Regions from separate parts of the Homo sapiens genome. Here region 1 is linked to region 2. A link means that fine-mapping ties the variant in region 2 to the expression of a gene that starts in the linked region. Tissue or cell type: whole blood. Region 2 holds a variant in brackets; the other region holds the start of a gene. All regions are shown on one strand. Distances are between the middles of the regions.

The links. PIP is the estimated chance that this variant, and not a neighbour inherited with it, causes the effect.
Region 1: NQO1 starts here. The variant in region 2 is fine-mapped to the expression of NQO1 in whole blood (TOPMed, PIP above 0.99).

The regions. Positions count from the first base shown.
Region 1 is chr16:69,723,050-69,731,151 of GRCh38, reverse strand. It overlaps NQO1 (NAD(P)H quinone dehydrogenase 1), which reads left to right and starts at 4,592. Exons shown (of 6, transcript NM_000903.3): 1 at 4,592-4,719. The coding sequence starts at 4,713. It overlaps NQO1-DT (NQO1 divergent transcript), which reads right to left and starts at 4,425. Exons shown (of 2, transcript NR_186363.1): 1 at 3,977-4,425. RefSeq lists enhancers at 3,123-4,116, 4,325-4,584, 3,831-5,030, 4,117-5,109.
Region 2 is chr16:70,445,863-70,453,964 of GRCh38, reverse strand. LOC124903708 (a long non-coding RNA gene) reads left to right here. Exons shown (of 2, transcript XR_007065104.1): 2 at 498-928. Among named protein-coding and RNA genes, the nearest start is that of FCSK, 4.7 kb to the left of the region's middle. The variant C/T (reference allele first, on the strand shown) is at 4,318.

The DNA of each region.
Region 1 (8,102 bases), 720 kb after region 2:
GGTGTGATCTCGGCTCACCGCAACCTCTGCTTCCTGGGTTCAAGCTATTCTCCTGCCTCAGCCTCCTGAGTAGCTGGCATTATAGGCATGCACCACAACACCCAGCTAAATTTTTTTGTATTTTTAGCAGAGATGAGTTTTGCCATATTGGCCAGGCTGGTCTTGAACTCCTGACTTCAAGTGATCCACCCGTCTCGGCCTCCCAAAGTGCTGGGATTACAGGCGTGAGCCACGGCACCAGGCCTAGTCTAGTCTTTTCACGTTTTTCTGCCTGCTTTATATTCTGGCCGCACTGGCAGCTGATTAGTTGGTGCCCACCCAGATTGAGGATGGGTCCGCCCTTCCCAGTCCCACTGACTCAAATGTTCACCTCCTTTGGTAACGCCCTCACAGACACACCCAGGATCAATACTTTGCATCCTTCAATCCAATCAAGTTGACACTCATTATTAACCATCACAAGGTGTGAGCCCTGCACCCAGCAATATATTGCTTTTTATATATTTATAGAAATTCAATTGGTTCTGTTTCTCTGGAAAATCCTGATCAATATACACTCCTTCATTTTTCTTATAGCACTGAATTATGGGATAAACCAGGTTGGTTGTCCTGTAGAATGTCCCACACTGTGATTTGACTGATGTTTCCCCATGATTTTAACTTCTATCTCCTGTGTTTCCCAATCAACCCACTTGGGTTTTTGTTTTTTCTTTTTGTTTTTAGATAGGGTGTCACTGTGCTGCCTAGGTTGGAGTGCAGTGGTACAGTCACAGCTCACTATAGCGTCGACTTCCCAGGCTCAGATGATCCACCCATCTCAGCCTCCTTAGTAGCTGGATCCACAGGTGCACACCACCACACCTAGCTAATTTTTAATTTTTTTAGAGATGGCAGAGGTGGGGGGGGTTGCGGGGGGGTCTCACTATGTTGCCCAGGCTGGTCTTGAACTCCTGGGCTCAAGCGATCCCCCTGCCTTGGCCTCCCAAAGTGCTGGGATTACAGGTATAAGCCACCGCACCTGGCCCCAAACAACCCACTTTTTTTATTCTCTCAGTTTTTGCCCTTATTTAATCCCCCACTCTTACTTCAGCCTCGTTAGGAACTTGAGTCTCTGGACCCCTCTACTTTTTCTCTGCCAATAAGCCCTTTCATAATGTTCGTCATCACTCCAACCACTCTACTTTTTAAAAATGGACTTTGTTGAGGAATAACATGCATACAATAAAATGCTTGTATTTAAAATGTACTTTTCAGCGGATTTTAATAAATACATACATCTGTGTAACTACCGCCACCATCAAGTCGCTCTCTTCTTCACAGCCCCCACTCTGTCTCCTCTCATCATGCTTTCCCAACCTACATCAATCCCTCAGACTCCCCCTCTCCTGGCACGCCTGGCTGCAGACCTGCAGGAGAGAACACACACGCCGACCTGCTGGAAACCTGTACATCAGTACTGCCCTCCCGAGGACCCTCGGTCTTTGTCCAGGCAGCAGTGCTCGCCCATGCTCCACAGCAGCTTTTTCTTTTTCTTTTTTTCTTGAGATGGAGTCTCGCTCTTGTTGCCCAGGCTGGAGTGCAGTGGCACAATCTCAGCTCACTGCAACCTCTGCCTCCTGAATTCAAGCGATTCTCGTGCCTCAGCCTCCCGAGTAGCTGGGACTGGAGGCGCCCACCACCACACCCAGCTCATGTTTTTGTATTTTTAGTGGAGACGGGGTTTCACCACATTGGCCAGGCTGGTCTCCAATTCCTGAGCTCAAGTGATCCACCCGCTTCAGTCTCCCAAAGTGCTGGGATTACAGGCCTGAGCCACTGTGCCCGGCCAGTAAGTTTCTTTTTTTCTTTTGAGACAGGATCTCCCTCTGTTGCCCAGGCTGGAGTGCAGTGGCATGATCTTGGTTCACTGCCACCTCAAATGTCTGTCTTTACCACTGTGTAGTAACAAATTTGGCCAGGAGTGGTGGCACATACCTGTAACTCCAGCACTTTGGGAGATCAAAGCGGGAGGATCACATGAGCCCAGGAGTTTGAGACCAGCTTGGGCAACATAGTGAGACCCTATCTCTACCAAAAAAATAAAAAAAAATTAGCCAGGCACGGTGGCATGCACCTGTCATCTCAGCTACTCAGGAGGCTGGGGCAGGAGGATTGCTTGACTCCAGAAGGTCGAGGCTGCAGTGAACTATCATCATGCCCCTGAGCCCCTAAATCCCAAATGATAGGAGTGTCCATCTTATTCATTGTGGGCTTCTCAGACCACTCCTGATGGTTTATGCTAATGAGATGACTTGGGATGGGCCCCTATATAGTTCATGTTAACAAGATGACTGAGGATGGGAACTGGCCATGCTGGAAACCAACGACCGAACACGACACTTGAGCTTTGTGGCTTTGAGCCCCACCTCTGGATGGGTCAGGGAGACTGGTGATTGAGAAAACAATCTCACTAGAAGAGTGAGAGATAGAATAGCCAGCACACTGCGGCCTCGATCTGAACCAGCTCAGGTCTTTCCAAACACTAGTGACATGTGGCTATCTAAATTTAATTAAAGCCAGGCGCAGTGGCACATGCCTGTAATCCTAGCACTTTGGGAGGCCGAGGTGGGCAGATCACCTGAGGTCAGGAGTTTGAGACCAGCCTGGCTAACATGGTGAAACTCATCTCTACGAATAATACAAAAAGTGGCTGACTGTGGTGGTGCATGCCCGTAGTCCTAGCTACTCAGGAAGCTGAGGCACAAGAATTGCTTAAACCCAGGAGATGGAGATTGCAGTGAGCCAAGATCCTGCCACTGCACTCCAGCCTGGGCGACACAGTGAAACCCCGCCTCAAAAAATAAATTTTTAAAAAATTAATTTAATTACAATTAAAACTTCACTTCCTCAGTCCACTGGCCACTTTTTTTTTTTTAATTTCCATTTTTTTTCTTTTATTGAGTCCACCACTGCGGCCTTGAATTCCTGGGCTCAAGCGATCTTTTTGCCTCAGATCCTGAGTAGCTGGGACACAGGCGCCTGCCACCACGCCTGGCTGCTGGCCACATTTCCAGTGCTCAATAGCTACTTGAAGCTTGTGGCTACCTTACTTGGGCAGCACAGATAGGGAAAGTTCTATTGGACAGGGCTGCCTACCTAGCCCTTTTTTAAAACGTCCTTTTATACTATTTTGTCAGATGGGGTCTCACTTTGTTGCTCAGGCTTTTCTCAAACTCTTGGGCTCAAGTGATCCTCCTGCCTCAGCCTCCCAAAGTAATTTGTAAATACGTGTAAATAATATAGTCCTCTCTTGTTGCATCAAAATGAATGCAAAAATGTCACGATGGGGCCGGGCGCGGTGGCTCATGCCTGTAATCCCAGCACTTCGGGAGGCCGAGGCGGTAGGATCACCTGAGGTCGGGAGTTGGAAACCAGTTTTCTGGTGCCTCCTTAACTTTTGCACTGGAGGGACAACGGAAGGGCCCTGTGTCATCCTCACCTCCCCCATCTGTGATTCTTCTGATGGTTAATTACCACTTTAAAGCTCTAGTTCTTTTTCCTTCACCTACTGAGAGTATATCTCCTTCTTTACAGTAACTTTTACTTTATAGAGTTTTTTTTGAGACGGAGTCTCACTTCGTCACCCAGGCGGGAGTGCAGTGGCACGATCTCGACCCACTGCAACCTCCGCCTTCCGGGTTCAAGCGATTCTCCTGCCTCAGCCTCCCGAGTAGCTGGGACTTACAGGCGCCCGCCATCACGCCCAGCTAATTTTTCAGTACAGACGGGGCTTCACCAGGTTGGCCAGGCTGGTCTCGAACTCCTGACCTCAGGTGATCCACCCACCTCGGCCTCCCATATTGCTGGGATTACAGGCGTGAGCCACCGCGCCTGGTCCCGTTTTGGCTATTCTTTAATATGCTTCCCTATAACTGCTATCTCCACACCAGCCTTGCCTTAGCTCATGGGAAACAAAACCAATTAGTTCCCCCATTACCTGCCTTGAGGAGCAGGGGTGGTGCAGTGGCATGCACCCAGGGAAGTGTGTTGTATGGGCCCCCAAGTGCAGAATCTGAATCTTGCAAAGGAAGAAACAAATTCGTCTCCACGGAGCATGTCTCCCCAGGACTCTCAGCCTTCCAAATCCGCAGTCACAGTGACTCAGCAGAATCTGAGCCTAGGGCACCACAGTAATCCGCATCCGGCTCTTTTTCTGCTCCATTTCGTGCCAAGGCTAAAAGGGCATGCCCACTTGATCCCTGGACTCTCTTGGGACGACTTCCACCCTGCATCCTCTTGCACCTCAGGGCACAGTGCGCAGATGGGCTTGCCTTAGCACCCCCAGCCAGATTTTTGAGGCCTCTGTCACACACACCCCTACAATCCCCTCCCCCAGCCCCGAGAGACTTTTCTTGACTTCCACCAGTTGCTCCGGCGGGTGAGAGTGGAGAGGCCCCTCCTTCATCCCCCAGGCTCCCTCCCTTCCTGGAGCTGCAGCCTCAGCATCCTCCGCCCAGCACCCCAGGATTCAGGCGTTGGGTCCCGCCCTTGTAGGCTGTCCACCTCAAACGGGCCGGACAGGATATATAAGAGAGAATGCACCGTGCACTACACACGCGACTCCCACAAGGTTGCAGCCGGAGCCGCCCAGCTCACCGAGAGCCTAGTTCCGGCCAGGGTCGCCCCGGCAACCACGAGCCCAGCCAATCAGCGCCCCGGACTGCACCAGAGCCATGGTCGGTGAGTGCTGCAAAGGGCGGGGTGCTTGGCGGTCGTCTCTCGAGCACTGGTGCCTGTGGAGGAGGTTGTAGGGGCTTGGCCCTGAATTTTGTTCCTTGACTCAAAACCCACAAAGGGAAGAGATTAGGGACCTGGGATGAGCCTTGATCGGACTCCGGGAGAAGGAGAGCTTCTGTTTGTATCCGGTGTCGCGGATCCTTCCTCACTCCACCCCACGAACTCTAGTGGGCATTTAGGAGAAACTTGACCTTGGAAGCAGAAATTCCCTCCAAAACTGTGGTCAGAAACTGGCCGTCAGAGGCCAAATCAGGCTTACGGTCACAGCCCATACCTCTTTTGGTCTATAGTATCTAAAACACTTTGAAATAAGTTGCTAACATTAAAATGGGTGATTTCACTTAAAAATGTGGATTCCGAGCTTCTGAAGAAAATGAGAATATCTGGCGATTGGTGGACAGGAGTGGAGGAAACTGATGCCTTTGGTTTGACGGAGACCAGAACCGGCTCCAGGCTGCCAGGCACAGGTTTTGTTTTGTTTTGTTTTGTTTTGTTTTGTTTGAGACGGAGTTTTGCTCTTGTCGCCCAGGCTGTAGTGCAATGGCGCTATCTCAGCTCAGCGAAACTTCCGCCTCCCGGGTTCAAGCGATTCTCCCATCTCAGCCTCCCGAGTAGCTGGGATTACAGGAGTGCGCCATCATGCGCGGCTAATTTTTATATTTTTAGTACAGACGGGTTTCGCCAAGTTGGCCAGCGCGGTCTTGAACTCCTGACCTCAGGTGATCCACCCACCTCAGCCTCCCCAAGTGCTGAGATTACTGACGTGAGCCACCGTGCCTGGCCTTGGGAGGCATTTTCCATTGAGGCCCTTGGATTAGGCAAACCTGATCAGATCGTACTGGATCCGTTTCTAGTATTGGGTCCACTTCAGTGATAGAGCCTTCCCACTCGGCCATCGACCCTAGGGGAACTCAGAGGTCACCCCAGCTCCACCCAAGGCATAAATAACCAGCTGAGACAACTGCAGGGATTGAGAGCTGTTTCCCAAATAATCTCACTCTGAGATTGGACAGTACTAAGATTTAGAAAGCTGTTGCCTCATCTGGGGCAGAATCCTGTGTTTTGTAATTTCCTTCCCTGTGGACCTGGTCCTGCCTCTAAAAATGCGCCTGTACACAAAGAAGCCCATCTTGGTCAAAGTGAGTGGAGGAACAGACTGCCCTTGCAGTTGACAAACTGAAATTATCAGGATCTCTGAGAAAGGGACTAAGCTGGGGATTGGTAGCCCAGCATGAGTTACTGGCAGAGACAGCAGGGAATAGATTCTGACAGCTGAGAGGCTTGCCGCATACACGGTGGTTGCTGTTTCCCTTGTATTTCATTCTTCAGCGTCGAGGCACTGGCACCCTCTCCTCCAATACTAGGGCAGGAACTATTTCCTGACTTTTCAATCTTACAGAATGTTCTGTATTTACGTGTAGCTTAAACACAAAAAAGGGCGGTGGTAATGAGGTGAAAAGGGAAGACTTGGATCTTGTATAATTAGTTTTAGCTGTACCCAGCTAACCAAATCTTGAGGTTAACTAAAGCATCCAGGTTTTTTGTTTGCAACTAATAGATGCATCTGATTTGCACTCATGTTCCCTGGAGCACTCAAGTGAGAAGAGAAGGCAGAAGGAGAATGCATGAAACTGATACAAAGGCTTATCTTTATCATACTTCTTTTTTTCTTTTTGAGACAGGGTCTTGCTTTGTTGCCCAGGCTGGAGTGCAGTGGCATGATCAGGGCTCACTTCAGCCTTGACCTCCTGGGCTCAAGTGATTGTCCCATCTTTGCCCCCGAGTAGCTGGGACTACAGGTGTGTGCCACCACACCCAGCTAATTTTTTTTGGTCAGAGCAGAAGAACTTGAAACCCAGCTAATTAAAAAAAAAAAAAATTTTGGCTGGGAGTGGTGGCTCATTCCTGTAATCCCAGCACTTTTGGGAGGCTGAGGCGGGAGGACTGCTTGAGGCCAGGAGTTCAAGACCAAGATTCAGCTCAAATGGCAAGCTCCTCTGAGGGCCTTTCCGAATGGGCCAGCCCTGAGGTCCTGAAGTTTTCCTCTGTTGAACTTTTTGAGATGGAGTCTCACTCACTCTGTTGCCCAGGCTGTAGTGCAGTGGCGTGATCTTGGCTCATTGCAATCTCCACTTCCCAGGTTCAAACGATTCTTGTGCTGCAGCCTCCCAAGTAGCTGGGATTACAGGCGCCCACCACCACGCCCAGCTAATTGTGTATTTTTAGTAGAGACGGGGTTTCACCATGTTGGCCAGGCTGGTCTCTAGCTCCTGACCTCAAGTAATCCACCCGCCTCGGTCTCCCAAAGTGCTACGATTACAGGCATGAGCCACCACACCCAGCCTTCTGTTGAACTTTGTCCCTTACCTCTCCTAACACACTAATGCCATTGTACCCTGAAGAGGTTATCCGTGTGTGCATCTTGTGGCCTCTCTCAGGGTAAACTCTAATAGTCTAACTCCTCCCAGGTCATGTTGCTCAGCTAGTTAAGTGGCAGGAAGGGAAAATGAACCCTCCAGGGCCCAGAAAACTTTTAAATTGCCTATTCACAAGCATCTTTTTGTTTGTTTGTTTGAGACAGAGGCTTGCTCTGTTGCGCAGGCTGGAGTGCAATGGTGCGATCTCGGCTCATTGCAACCTCCGCCTCCTGGATTCAAGCAATTCTCCTGCCTCAGCCTCCCGATTAGCTGGGATTACAGGCACCTGCCACTACACCTGGTTAATTTTTTTTTGTATTTTTAGTAGAGACGGGGTTTCACCATGTTAACCAGGCTGGTCTCTAACTCCTGACATGAGGTGATCTGCCCGCCTCAGCCTCCCAAAGTGCTGAGATTACAGGTGTGAGCCACCGCGACCCACCCACAACCTTCTTTTGATCATTTTTCTTTTGAGTTGTTTTGGGGATCTACCTATTCCAGGTACTGCACTTTGATGGTTATATTTGTTGCAAATATATTATTCCTGCTTGTGTGTTGCCTTACATGAAAAATTGTAAAGTCACAGGCCTGCTTATAGCTATTAGAGTCTGAGCTCCTTGAAAGAGCAAGAGATGGATATCCTGATTTGCTCATTTTCTGAGAAGTGCCTTGACTGTCTTACTACTTAGAAAATGCTTGTTAACATTGATGAGAAGTCAATAAAATAAAAACTGTTGGCTGGGCGCTGTGGCTCACGCCTGTAATCCCAGCAGTTTGGGAGGCCGAGACAGGCGGATCACGAGGTCAGGAAATCGAGACCATCCTGGCTAACACGGTGAAACCCCGTCTCTACTAAAAATACAATTAGCCGGGCGTGGCGGCGAGCGCCTGTAATCCCAGCTACTCTGG
Region 2 (8,102 bases):
TGAAAGGAAAATAAATCTCAGGACCCCAAAGTCACTAAGTCAAAGGGAAAAGTCAAGCTGAGAACTGCATCAGGGAAACCTACCTCCCATTTTATTCTTAAACAAGATAACTACAAAGATAAAAAAGCTAGATATGGCCTGGCCCTCACAACTTGCCCACTAGGAAATTCCTTGTGTGCCCCCAAATCTGTACCCTAAAACAGTTGTGTGGAATTTCAGTGACAATGTAAATTTATAGCTTATCTTCACAGGTGCTGGGCTTTGACAGCACTGAAAGTCATCTCTCAGCTCACCTGAGACAAATGCATATCTCATTGCTTCCTCTGCCCTATGTTTATTTTTTCTTATGTAAAAATGCATATTCACTGAGCTAGATGAATGCATAAGTGACTAGTCCTCTATCCCCCTCTAACATGTGAAAGGCTTATCAAAGACTCAGAAGAATGCAGCCATTTGCCTCTTACCTACCCATGCCTTTTAAAAATTTCCTCTTTCAGGCCAGGCACGGTGGCTCGCACCTGTAGTCCCAGCCCTTTGGTGAGGCCGAGGCGGGTGGATCATGAGGTCGGGAGTTGAAGACCAGCCTGGCCAATATGGTGAAACCCCGTCTACTAAAAATACAAAAATTAGCTGAGCGTGGTGGCGCGCACCTGTAGTCCCAGCAGCTTGGGAGGCTGAGGAAGGAGAATCGCTTGAACCCGGGAGGCAGAGGTTGCAGTGAGCTGAGATTGCACCACTGCACTCCAGCCTGGGCAACACAGTGAGGCCCTGTCTAAAAAAAAAAAAAAAATTCCTCTTTCCCCAATATCTGACCTTTCCCCTTTAAATATTGAAGCCCTCAAAATCATCTTTGGAGAAAGGTACAGACCTGTCTCCCAGGTGCACACATTCTTAACTTTGGCAAAATAAACTTGTAAATTGATTGAGACCAGTATCTGGTGCTTTTTGGTTTACAACTGGAAAACTAAACTAGGCACATCCATGCAAGACAGATGCTCTATATGTTCAGTAGGGAGTGATGTTCAGGACATCATGTTAAGGGAAAAGCAGCAAGTTGTAGAGCAATATGTATGGGAAGCCCCTCAAATAAAAAATAATGTTTATGGACAGATAGTGTGTGGATACACAGGAACAGGGCTGGAAGCGAACGCATGCTAGGGAGAGACTGCTAAGCATGGGGACAAGCGGGGAGAACTTGAGCTTTATCTGTATTGTTTGAATTTTTCTTACAAGAATGTACTTTCCAAATCTGTTGTTAATAAGGAGCCTAAAGCTGGGCACAGGTGCTCACGCCTGTAATCCCAACACTTTGGGAGGCCAAGGTGGGAGGATGGCTTGAGCTTGGGAGTTTGAGACCAGCCTGGGCAACATAGCAAGACCCCGTCTCTAAAATATATATAAATTAGGGCCGGACGAAGTGGCTCATGCCTGTAATCCCAGCACTCTGGGAGGCCAAGGCAGGCAGAAAACTCGGGGTCAGGAATTCAAGATGAGCCTGGCCAATTTTTTTGTTATTGTTGTTGTGAGACAGAGTCTCACTCTGTTGCCCAGGCTGGAGTACAGTGGTGTGATCTCGGCTCACTGCAACCTCCGCCTCCCAGGTTCAAGTGATTCTCTTGCCTCAGCCTCCTGAGTAGCTGGGATTACAAGCATGTGCCACCACGCCCAGCTAATTTTTGTATTTTTAGTAGAGACGGGGTTTCACCATGTTCAGGCTGGTCTCCAACTCCTGACCTCAGGTGATCCACCCACCTCGGCCTCCCAAAGCGTTGGGAGTACAAGCGTGAGCCACCGTGCCCAGTCAGTGGCCAATTTTTTTTTTTTTTTTTTTTTTGAGATGGAGTCTCACTCTGTCTCCCAGGCTGGAGTGCAGTAGCACCATTTCGGCTCACTGCAAGCTCTGCCTCCCAGGTTCATGACATTCTCCTGCCTCAGCCTCCTGAGTAGCTGGGACTACAGGCACCCGCCACCACGCCCAGCTAGTTTTTTGTACTTTTAGTGGAGACGGGGGTTTCACCGTGTTAGCCAGGATGGTCTTGATCTCCTGACCTCATGATGCACCCACCTCGGCCTCCCAAAGTGCTGGGATTACACGCATGAGCCACAGTGCCCGGCCGCCAATGGCCAATTTTTTAAATACAAAAATTAGCCAGGCGTGGTGGCAGGAGCCTGTAATTCAGTTATTCGGCAAGCTGAGTCAGGAGAGTCATTTGAAGCCAGGAGGCGGAAATTGCACTGAGCTGAGATCGTGCCACTGCACTCCAGCCTGGGTGACAGAGCGAGATTCTGTCTCAAAAAACAAATAAAATTTAAAAAAAAATAAATTTACAAAATAATGAGGCTGAGAGGCACTGAGGTCAGTCACAATGGAGATGGACCCTGCTCTAACTCTGTGTAACCATCTATAAAGTAAGTTAATAATAGTATCAAATATCTGAGATTGTTGTGAGGGTAGGATAAATGCTTGACTCCATAGTAAATACTCAAAAAGTATTAACCATTATGATTATCGTCATTATTCCCATCCTGCTCCATTAAAGCAGGATGTTTGGTTTGTTCACCATTGTATCCTCAGGCCTTAGAACAGTGCTGAGGACATGGTAGTGAGAGGTGACAGCGTGCTGGTAGTCCTCACAGCCCTCGTTCGCTCTCCGCGCCTCCTCTGCCTGGGCTCCCGCTTTGGCGGCACTTGAGGAGCCCTTCAGCCCACCGCTGCACTGCGGGAGCCCCTTTTTGGGCTGGCCAAGGCCGGAGCCGGCTCCCTCAGCTTGCAGGGAGGTGTGGAGGGAGAGGCGTGGGTGGGAACCGGGGCTGTGCGCGGTGCTTGCGGGCCAGTACGAGTTCCGGGTGGGTGTGGGCTTGGCGGGTCCGCACTCGGAGTAGCCGGCCGACCCTACCAGCCCCGGGCAATGAGGGGCTTAACACCCCGACCAGCGGCTGCAGAGGGTGTGCTGGGTCCCCCAGCAGTGCCGGCCCACTGGCGCTGCGCTCGATTTCTCGCCCGGCTTTAACTGCCTCCCCGCGGGGCAGGGCTCCGGACCTGCAGCCCGCCATGCCTGAGCCTCCCCAGCCACGCCGTGGGCTCCTGTGCCGCCAGAGCCTCCCCGACGAGCGCCGCTCCCTGCTCCACGGCGCCCAGTCCCATCGACCACCCAAGGGCTGAGGAGTGCGGGCGCAGGGCGCAGGACTGGCAAGCAGCTCCACCATGCAGCCCCAATGCGGGATCCACTGAGTGAAGCCAGCTGGGCTCCTGAGTCTGGTGGAGACGTGGAGAACCTTTATGTCCAGCTCAGGGATTGTAAATACACCAATGGGCACTCTGTATCTAGCTCAAGGTTTGTAAACACACCAATCAGCACCCTGTGTCTAGCTCAGCATTTGTGAGTGCACCAATCCACACTCTGTATCTAGCTACTCTGGTGGGGCCTTGGAGAACCTTTGTGTCGATACTCTGTATCTAACTAATCTGGTGGGGACGTGGAGAACCTTTGTGTCTAGCTCAGGGATTGTAAACACACCAATCAGCGCCCTGTCAAAACAGACCACTCAGCTCTACCAATCAACAGGATGTGGGTGGGGCCAGATAAGAGAATAAAAGCAGGTTGCGGAGCCAGCAGCGGCAACCTGCTAGGATCCCCTGTGGTATTGGGGAGGTCTTGTTATCTCGCTCTTGGCAATAAATCTTGCTGCTGCTTACTCTTTAGGTCCCCACTCCTTTTATGAGCTGTAACGCTCACCGCAAAGGTCTACAGCTTCTAGTCTTGACGCTAGCAAGACTAGGAGCCCACCGAGAGGAACCAACAACTCCCGACGCACTACCTTAAGAGCTGTAACTCTCACCGTGAAGGTCTGCAGCTTCACTCCTGAGCCAAGGAGACCACGAACCCACCAGAAGGAAGAAACTGAACACATCCGAACGTCAGAAGGAACAAACTCCAGACGCACCACCTTAAGAGCTGTAACACTCACGGCAAGGGTCCGTGGCTTCATTCTTGAAGTTAGTGAGACCAAGAACCCACCAATTCCGGACACAGTAGGTGGTTAAAAACAATTGATTGGCCAGGTGTGGTGGCCCACACCTATAATCCCAGCACTTTAGGAGGCCGAGGCAGGAAGATCACCTGAGGTCAGGAGTTCGAGACCAGCCTGGCCAACATGGTGAAATCCTCTCTCTACTAAAAATACAAAAATTAGTTGGGCATGGTGGTGGGTGCATGTAATCCCAGCTACTCAGGAGGCTGAGGCAGGAGAATCGCTGGAAGCCGGGAGGTGGAGGTTGCAGTGAGCTGGGATTGCACCACTGCACTCCAGCCTGAG[C/T]GACAGAGCGAGAGACTTTGTTTCAAAAAAAAAACCCAATTGGTTGAATGAATGAAGAGCAACCTTCTGCTCAGCTCTCGCCACCCACCTTCTCCTCACACTGTCTGCTTCCCTCAGTCTTCTCCCACTGGAGTCATTCTCCATCTACACTTGGCCCAGGTCTCATCCTCCTTCTCCCACTTCAATGCCTGCTGTTTCTTCTGTGAACCTAGGAGGCCTCCAGGGAGGTGATGAACTGCCTCTCACTGTTGCTGTTCTCAGCAATGCAGGTCCTGGGCTCTGCAGTGAAGTGGGAAGTAGGGATGCCTGCAACTGCGGGTTTGGTGGGGGCTCAAGAAAACAGTGTGCCCCCAAGGAGCTTAGAGGCCTTATGCTCCACCCTATACCTCCTAGGGCAGTATGGTTAGTAGAGGAGAGGTAGCTTCCAGGCTGCTCTGGCATCTCCTTGCCTGAGGAGCAAAGAAACTCAAGGAAGGTTTTTAGTAAAATGAAGCCCTCAGTGCAGCAGCAGACCCAAAAATCTGTACGTGGCCTCACCATCTGGGGTACACAGAGCCATTACACACACATACACACAAACTGTTATAAAATAAAGCACAGTCGGCCAGGCATGGTGGCTCATGCCTGTAATCCCAGCACTTTGAGAGGCTGAGGCGGTAGGATCACGAGGTCAGGAGTTCGAGACCAGCCTGGCCGACACGTAAAACCCATCTCTACTAAAAATACAAAAACTTAGCAGGGCATGGTGGTGGGCATCTATAATCCCAGCTACTCAGGAGGCTGAGGCAGGAGAATTGCTTGAAACCACGTGGTGGAGGTTGCAGTGAGCCGAGATCATGCCACTGCATTCCAGCTTTGGCAACAAGAGTGAAACTCCATCTCAAAAAAATAACAATAAAATAGAGCACAGTCGGACGGGCATGGTGGCTCATGCCTGTAATCCCAGTACTTTGGGAGGCCGAGGTGGGCATATCATTTGAGGTCAGGAGTTTGAGACCAGCCTGGCCAACATGGTGAAACCCTGTCTCTACTAAAAATACAAAAATTAGCTGGGCGTGCTGGCGCGTGCCTGTAATCCCAGCCACTCAGGAGGCTGAGGCAGGAGAATTGCTTGAATCCAGGAGGCAGGAGATGCAGTGAGTCAAGATCATGCCACTACACTCCAGCCTGGGTGACACAGCGAGACTCCATCTCAAAAAATAAAAAAGAACAGAGTCTAGTGATTAAATCCAAGGATTAAACTTAGACAAATCCGCTCAGCTGCCACGACTTTCTTTTTTTTTTCTTTTTCTTTTTTTCTCTCTTTTGAGACAGGGTCTCACTCTGTTGCCCAGTTTGGAGTGCAGTGGTGCAATCACGGCTCACAGCAGCCTCCAACCCCTGGGCTCAAGTGATCCTCCCAAGTAGCTGGGACTATAGGTGTGTGCAACCACACAGGGTCTTGCCATGTTGCCAAAGCTGGTCTCGAACAGCTGGGTTCAAGCAATCCTCCTGCCGTGGCTTCCCAAAGTACTGGGATTACAGGCATGAGCCACCACACTCAGCCCTTTAAAAACAATATTTTTTTTCTTATAGCATAGAGACTGGGTCTCACTACGTTGCTCAGGCTGGGTTTTTGTTTTTTTCTTGTTGTTGTTTTTTTATTTTATTTGAGATGGAGTCTCGCTCTGTCTCCCAGGCTGCAGTGCAGTGGCCCAATCTCGGCTCACTGCAGCCTCTGCCTCCCGGGTTCAAGTGATTCTCCTGCCTCAGCCTCCTGAGGATTACAGGCACATACCACCACACTTGGCTAATTTTTTTTTTTTTTGAGACAGAGTCTCACTCTGTCGCCCAGGCTGGAGTGCGGTGGCATGATCTTGGCTCACTGCAAGCTCCGCCTCCCGGGTTCATGCCATTCTCCTGCCTCAGCCTCCCGAGTAGCTGGGACTACAAGTGCCTGCCACCACGCCTGGCTAATTTTTTGTATTTTTAGTAGAGACGGGGTTTCACCGTGTTAGCCAGGATGGTCTCGATCTCCTGACCTCATGATCCGCCCGCCTCAGCCTCCCAAAGTGCTGGGATTACAGGCATGAGCCACCGCACCTGGCCAAACACATGGCTAATTTTTGTATTTTTAGTAGAGATGGGGTTTCATCATACTGGCCAGGCTGGCCTTGAACTCCTGAACTCAGGTGATTTGTCTGCTTCACCCTCCCAAAATTCTAGGATTATAGGCATGAGCCACCACTCTTGGCCTCCAGCCTGGTCTTGAACTCCTTGGCTCAAGCGATCCTCCCACCTTGGGCTCCAAAAGTGCTGGGATTACTGGTGTGAGCCACCACACCTGGCCTCTCATCACTTTCTAACCGTGCGAGCAAGCCACTCAACCTGTTTGAGCCCAACTTCCTTATCTGTGAGATTAAAATAGAATTTCCAAATTAGGTTGTTGGGAGGGTTTCATGAGCTAATGCACATAAAGGGTTTAGCGCAGTGCCTAATACAATGTAGGCATCCAAACTCCTTATTGTTAAACAAATGACCTACTGCCAGAATGTGAGGGTCCAGGTCTGGGAGGGAGGACTTTTTGGAGAAGGTGAAATCTTCAGGCCCCTGATGAGATGTGTGGCTGTTACTGGTAGCAGAAATTCCCTCTGGGAGCCAGAACTGCCCATAGGGATATTTTAGGTTGGGTGCCTAGATGCAGAGCCTGAGACAGGAATTCTTGTGTAAGCGACTTCCTAGGGGAGTGGGGAAAGCAGGATAGGGCAGGGAAAGAAACCAAGTAAAGATGTAAGTTCACCTAAATTTTGCCTCAATCTGATTGAACAGGGAGCTCTGGAGCATAAAATGCAATCCAGGCCAGGTGCAGTGGCTCACACCTGTAATCCCAGCATTTTGGGAGGCCGAGGCAGGCGGATCATCTGAGGGCAGGAGTTCCAGATCAGTCTGGCTGATATGGAGAAACCCCATCTCTACTTAAAATACAAAAAGTAGCCGAGCATGGTGGCATGTGCCTGTAATCCCAGCTACGTGGGAGGCTGAGGCAAAAGAATGGCTTGAACCTGGAGGGTGTACGATGCAGTGAGCTGAGATATCGCTACTGCACTTCAACCTGGGTGACAGAGCCAGACTCTGTATCCCCCCACCCCGCAAAAAAGCCAATTCCTTGGCACTGGAGGAAGAAAACTAAAAAAGAAAAAAAAAGGCCGGGCATGGTGTCTCCCATCTGTAATCCCAGAATTTTGGGATTAGGTGGCACAGATTTCCAGTTACACTAGCAGTGGATAAGAATGCCCCACACTCTTGCCAAGATAGTTATCAAGCTTTTTGATTGTTGCCAATCTGGTATGTGAAAAATGATATCTCAGTGTGGTGATTTTCATCTGCATTTGTTTTATTAAGAGTGATGTGGCTAGGTACAGTGGCTCACGCCTGTAATCCAAACACTTTGGGAGGCCAAGGCGGGCGGATCACGAGGTCAGGAGTTCGAGACCAGCTTGGCCAACATGGTGAAACCCCGTGTCTACTAAAAATACAAAAATTAGCTGGGCATGGTGGCAGGCACCTGTAATCCCAGCTACTCGGGAGGCTGAGGCAGGAGAATTGCTTGAACCTGGGAGGCGGAGGTTGCAGCGAGCCTAGATCACACCACTGCACTCCAGCCTGGGCAAAAGAGCAAGATTCTGTCCAAAAAAAAAAAAAAAAAAAGAAGGAGGAAGGACAACGAGAAGGAGAGGAAAGGGAAGGAGAAGGAGAAGGGTAAGGGGAAACTTGATGCTCCCTTTGCATCCCATTGAGGTACAGAG